Linked DNA regions of Homo sapiens: region 2 is reported to be linked to region 1. The links are microRNA targets in miRTarBase. Many come from high-throughput screens and were not tested one by one. Region 1 holds a microRNA gene; the other region holds the end of a gene's coding sequence.

Evidence for each region. The annotated mature microRNA hsa-miR-218-5p reads UUGUGCUUGAUCUAACCAUGU and lies in region 1 at 1,618-1,638, opposite strand. An mRNA with a match to its seed (bases 2 to 7 or 8) in the 3' UTR can be bound and repressed. Matches are read on the target gene's strand: a 7mer-m8 pairs with bases 2 to 8, a 7mer-A1 pairs with bases 2 to 7 and ends in A, and an 8mer does both.
Region 2: miRTarBase lists SAP130 as a target of hsa-miR-218-5p. The part of its 3' UTR that is shown has no 7-base or 8-base seed match.

Annotation. Positions count from the first base shown.
Region 1 is chr4:20,526,726-20,529,936 of GRCh38, reverse strand. MIR218-1 (microRNA 218-1) reads right to left here and starts at 1,662; the gene lies at 1,553-1,662. It overlaps SLIT2 (slit guidance ligand 2), which reads right to left. Exons shown (of 37, transcript NM_004787.4): 16 at 838-988.
Region 2 is chr2:127,939,292-127,942,403 of GRCh38, reverse strand. It overlaps SAP130 (Sin3A associated protein 130), which reads left to right. Exons shown (of 21, transcript NM_001330301.2): 21 at 240-1,182. The coding sequence ends at 398. Among named protein-coding and RNA genes, the nearest start is that of AMMECR1L, 55 kb to the right of the region's middle.

The sequences.
Region 1 (3,211 bases):
CTAGTTAAAGATGGAAGGATTATATACAAACAAACAGACAACGAACTTTGCAAAGCAGTAAATGACAAATACCAGATGGTGCTATATATAAACATGGCTAAGATGTTTAGAGAATGATGAGGTTTTGCTAGTTTTTTCCCTGAATTGTTAGAACACTAACATTAAAGGTCCTCTTCTTATAAATAAAGTCAGTAAAGGCAAACCATGCATGGGCATAGAATCTGTAAGTGCTCCAACAAACACCTTAGCACTTAGTATGTGCAAGGTCCTATGTTAAGGCTGTTAAGTGTAAATACCATCATATTCTGCCTTTTCAGCTTTTCTTGCATTGTTCAGAAAAAGCTATCCTTTCTACTTTAATACTTGATAACCACTGAATCCTTCTGCCCGTAAGTCAATGAAGTAGTAAATTAGGTAAGACAGACTCCTTGAATCTATTGATAGTTTACAGAGATTGAAAATGGAGGCTCTCAAACTACTTTATTTAGTTGCTATAAGAATTAAATACGTTAAAAACTAAGTACTTAGAAAACAAATTGGGAATAAATAATACCCAATAAATAAGCATCAAATAAATACCATTGTTATTAGTATGAAGTGCTTACTGAATTTTGAGAGATAAATTAGTTTCTGTACTTAATCGTATGGTTGGCTAGAAAGATGAATGAAGGTAGCCTCTAATATATTCTTGTACAAAATAGAGTTATGCCAATGTAATGCATATTAATTAAAATTAATGCAATTATTAATAATAAAAATGGCAAGACAAACATTCTTATGCTTTAATGCTTTCATTCCCTCCATCCCAACCAGAATTTTGTTGGGGGATGAACTTACAACTCTGCAGTGTACTGGGGAATGTGCTCCGGGATTTTGTTGAGCTTTTGATTAGAGCAATCTACTGTGGTTCCTTCACAGCGACACTTTTCAGGGCAAGCCAGATCCGCAAAGCAGTCTCCACTTAATTTTGATCGATAATCTTCTGTACCTATTGAGAATTCAAACCAAAAAAAAGATACTGAGTCTAAAGGTTAGAAAATTTATTAGTTTGTAGGAAGAAAAAAGTAAGATAACTATAGATTATGTAGCAGGGAGACAACTTGGGGTATTTTGGTCAATGGATGTCAGGAGAAAGGTTAAAAGAAAGGCTTGGAATTTTCTGGAAAAAAGAGTGACCAGATTCACATGACAGGAAAACATTAATAAAGTTGAGCTTTTCACAGCTGTACTTTCTGCTGATCCAATTCTGAGTCATTCTAGCCTACTTCACAGCTAGTCACACAATGGATATTAATTATTAAAAAGTTTATTTTTTTTCTCGGAGTCAAGAATTGAAAATATATCCAGTAATAAACATGATCCTATATCTCATTGTAAATTAGGGCTTTCAAGGCAAATAGATATACTCAGGCTTTTAAATTTTCTATGGACTTTTTACTATTCTCTCCCTCTCACATAATCTCGGAGATGCCTAAAAAGCCCTCTTTTTTCATTTTGATTTTGTAGAAAGAGACAGGAAAATCCTGATTTAAGCCTCAGCAGCTTGTCATGCTGTAGAAAGCTGCGTGACGTTCCATGGTGCTTGACGGAACCATGTTTTACTCATACCTCGCAACCACATGGTTAGATCAAGCACAACAGAAAATCTCGCTACATTATCACTACACCAACCACTAGGCCAAAGGTAAGACCAAGAGGAAAATGGAGGGAAGGAGGAGAAAAGCTACAGACGTTCTGGAAACGTAATACTGTTTACATGACATGCATTCTTCCCGCAGAATGTTTATGACCACAGTAAGAGTATTACTACCGATGATTTCCTGGAAACACAAAGAAGGGGCTATATGGAAAAGGTGCCTCCACCATTCCTCAGAACTGCAGAATGGAAACAACAGCTTTCGGGAACAACATCCAGGAAGAAGTTGAAGGTGAGCTACAAGGACAACAGAGAAGCTCAAAAGATCTGTGGTTTCTTCTTGAAAAAAAGGTGCCAAAGACCAAGACTAGAAGAAGGTACATCAGGATTGAAAAGGGAGGGTATTATGTTTCAGATCAGACACTTTTACTTACAGCCAAAATGGTGAATTCCTGCAAAAGTAAAGATCACCAAGAAGGAAAGAAAGAGTAATCCCAATTAAGATTAATATACATATTTATAAAACTAAGCTCTCTTCCTTCTTTCTTTATTATGGGAATTATTGAAAAAATAGCATGATGTGATGGGAATTGTCATGCTTTGTAAAATTTTATAAATAATATTTTGAAGCACGGTGGTCTCACAAGAAAACCAATGTAATAAAAGATGCATAGTGCAAATTAAGTTCTTGATTCCTTTAAAAGATGAACTCTCAAGGCCGGGTGTGGTGGCTCACGCCTGTAATACTAGCACTTCGGGAGGCCAAGGCGGGCGGATCACAAGGTCAGGAAGTCAAGACCATTTCACCTGACGGGTGAAAACCCATCTCCAGTAAAAATACAAAAAATTAGCTGGGCATGGTTGCGGGCGCCTGTAGTCCCAGCTACTCGGTGAGGCTGAGGCAGGAGAATGGCATGAACTCGGGAGGCGGAACTTGCAGTGAGCCGAGATCATGCCACTGCACTCCAGCCTGGGAGACAGCGAGACTCCATCTCCAAAAAAAAAAAGATGAACTCTCTGCAAGACAGATTTTCTTTTATCACTGTAATATGTAGAGTGCCATATAAAATGGTAGTAGCGAGGTACACACGTAAAAGTGAATGAAAAACTAATCATGGAGATCCTCAAGGACAATCATTACAACATTTGGATTAATCCTTATGTTGTGATGTACACTTTTTAATGAACTTTTCAACTTATAAATAATGTGTCTTAGTGGAAATGGAATCAGAATCTCATAAGAAGTTTGCGATGGTAAATATAATCGTTTCATTACATTTGGCAGTTAATGCCATGATATTTACTGAGGATCTGGTGTCTTATGATTTATGCTTCACTCCAAAATGAAATAAGAGTGCACAAAGTCTAAGTGACAGGTACACTGGATATCTTGCAATTCAAATAATCTGCATTCAACGGAACAGTAATAATGCTTATTTTATGGTGGCTTGTTAGGTGGACTCAAATTTTAATTAAAATTTTTGGAAAAAAGGGGAGGAAGCCCAAATGATCCTTTTGAGTCCTGGCTTCTACAATTATCATGTTTAAAGAATGTAAATTAAATTATCATAAATT
Region 2 (3,112 bases), not on the chromosome of region 1:
TTCTGATCATCTACTTTATGAAGTTGCTTTCTGTAAAGCCCTACTTCTCCCGTTTCCCCCCGTCTCCCTCATATCTTCAGTAAAAACATACGTGCTTCAGCCTGCACTCCTGAGAAACAAAAAGACATTTTCTCTGTTGTGGAAGCCTCAACATGGCCTCTGCCCAAAGGCAAGCAGTTTTTTAAAAGCTGTACTATCCTCATGGTCACTGATTGATGATGCAATGTCTTCTGTTTCAGGGAAATATGCAGAGGTGTAAACTTGTGATGGATCAAATCAGTGAAGCCAGAGACTCCATGCTTAAGGTTTTAGATCATAAAGACCGTGTCCTGAAGCTGCTTAACAAGAACGGGACTGTCAAAAAAGTGTCCAAATTGAAGCGAAAGGAAAAAGTCTAGACCCAGAACAATCAGGAGATTGGAAGCAAATTTATGAAGAATGATGGTGGGGGTGGGGGGAGGGTTTTGGTTTTTTCCAAAGTGGAACATTGAAATAAAGGAAGTGTTCCTTAGTTCCCGTGTGAAAGCAGAGGAACCCATGACATCCAAGGGCGTGAAAGGATCAGAGCTGACTGGACATAGTGAGCTGCCTTCTTGCGTTCGGGTGCACCCCTGTTAAACCTGATCTGTGTCATAAGTGACTCCGGATGCATCAGTGTCCACCAGTTGGAAGCAATGACAAGGATGGCTGGCTGGTGTTTTTCAGCCTTCCGGTTTATAGACTGTATTTATCTAGTGGATTCCTGCAGGCCCCATACTGAGCCTGGACTGAAAGTATCCACTCGGACCATCTGTTATCTCTCTACACTGAAAATAAAACCTCTTCCACCCACCCCATTCGGTTCTTCTGCCTGACCTTCAAATGCCCATGTTGGCCTTTTACAGCAGTGCCACGGCACCAAGCGAGCTGCCACATCTCACACTCTAAAGGGTTTGAACTATTAGTTCTTGTCATTTTTTAAAAAAAACCATTCCCAAGTGAAATTGTTATATCGTCTGTCTTGCGTGTGTCAGAACTGGGTTTTTGTGGAGGTTCAGAGCAGGCAACACCATAAGTTGCTCTCAGATCCTTGTTCTGAAGTACATTCTTGGTTATCTGTACTTCTGTAGCTGGTGTGATGCTGTTAATTGTATGTACCACACATCTCCAGACGTTAATAAAGGACTCAAAGAGGTTTTTGTACTTGCGCAGTTTGCATCTTTTTGTAAAGTGAATCAGTGCCATACTGACCCTCACTGAAATGTTTACCCTGCTTCAGTTTTTCACACATTGTTGGGAGCCTACTTTGTTTGTTGAAGTTATGCTGTTCGCATAGAGTTCCTCTTAGAGGGTAGTCTAAATATGCTACAGTGGTGAAACCTGTTGGATCTTGGCTCCCTTAAATACGAGCCTGTATTGTGGCCCAGTGCGGATAAAAATTGGTCCGATTACAGGACTATTAAGGCTGCAGTACTGGGGGCGGAGCTTTCGGGCGGGTGGATCCTCTCCACACATTGCTCTTCGTCTGAACTAACCTGAGTGGAAAGGCAGCTCAGATCGGCTTCCTTTGGGCACAAGACCAACCGTCTCCATCTGGCCTCCATGTAACAGACCAGGAAAGATTTTTCTCAGAGGCTTCTGCCTCTGCAGACACGACGTGACCACCCTCCTTCCTTAGGACACCTGCTTTCAGCTACCAGGTTGGGGCTAGAGTGCTTCCCTTTGCTCTGAGTTGAACAGATTTGAGATGGGCCGTGTTCCATTTCTACCCATGCCTTTGGGACCAATGCCCTGGCTCACCTGAGACAGCCTTCCTCATAGTAGAATGGTAAGCTGTCATCTGTGGGATTGGGAAGACCACCCAGGCCTGCAGAGCCTAGGCTAAAGACAGCCTGGGCGCAATCGAGGCTGCTTGACTAGAGTATTCGATGAGGATATGGAGAAAACTTGAGAAGGTTTTACTAGGTGCCAATCTAGCATAACTCCTAGAATAGTGTTCCTTTGCTGCAGTTTCTCATCAGTACACACATTGCCTTAGTGGTCACATGTGGTCTTTGGTTAGAGCAGGAAAGGATTCAGGTATGTGGGATCCTATATTATAGACATAATTCTCTATGGCTTTTTTTTTGTTTGTTTTGTTTTGTTTTGAGACTGGATCTCACTCTATCACCCAGGCTGGAGTGCAGTGGCTCAATCGTGGTTCACTGCAGCCTCCAACTCCTGGGCTCAAGCGATTTTTCTGCCTCAGTCTCTTGAGTATCTGGGACTACCAGTGCTTGCCACCATACCCAGCTATTTTTTTTTTTATTTTTCTTTTTAAGAGATGGGATCTCACTGTGTTGCTCAGGCTAGAGATTACTTTTTTGAAGAAAGCTTGTCAGTACAAGCCTCGAAGTCAGTGCAGGTAAGAAAATAGTGTTTTCAGGATTTCTTCCCCTTATGAGGACAATGCAGTCAGAAGTTAGAGGCAAAGGGGATGATTCTTGCCTACAAACAATGGTTTTTGAATATAGTTTTATTGGCTGGGCGCAGTGGCTCACACCTGTAATCCCAGCACTTTGGGATGCCAAGGCAGGCAGATCACTTGAGCTCAGGAGTTCAAGACCAGCCTGGCCAACATGGTGAAACCCCGTCTCTACTAAAAAAAATAAAAATTAGCCAGGTGTGGTGGCGCATGCCTGTAGTCCCAGCTACTTGGGAGGCTGAGGCAGGAGAATCACTTGTACCTGGTAGGCAGAGGCTGCAGTGAGCCAAGATCACACCACTGCACTCCAGCGTGGGTGACAGAGTGAGACCCTGTCTAAAAACAAACAAAAATACAGTTTTATTAAAGAGGAATAGTGGCCCACGCCTGTAATCTGAACACTTTGGAAGGCCGAAGCAGGAAGATCTCTTGAGCCCAGGGGTTCGAGGCCAGCCTAGGTAACATAGTGAGACCCCACTTCTACAAGAAAACATTTAAAAAGAAAATGGCTTGTAATATTTTTATGTCTTCATAACGAGTGATTTTTTTTTTTTTTTGAGATGGTCTTGGTGTCACTCAGGCTGGAATACAGTGAGGCGAACACAGCTCACTACAACCTCAACCTCCCAAGTGCAAGCAATCTTCCTGCCTTAGTTTCCTGAGCAGCTG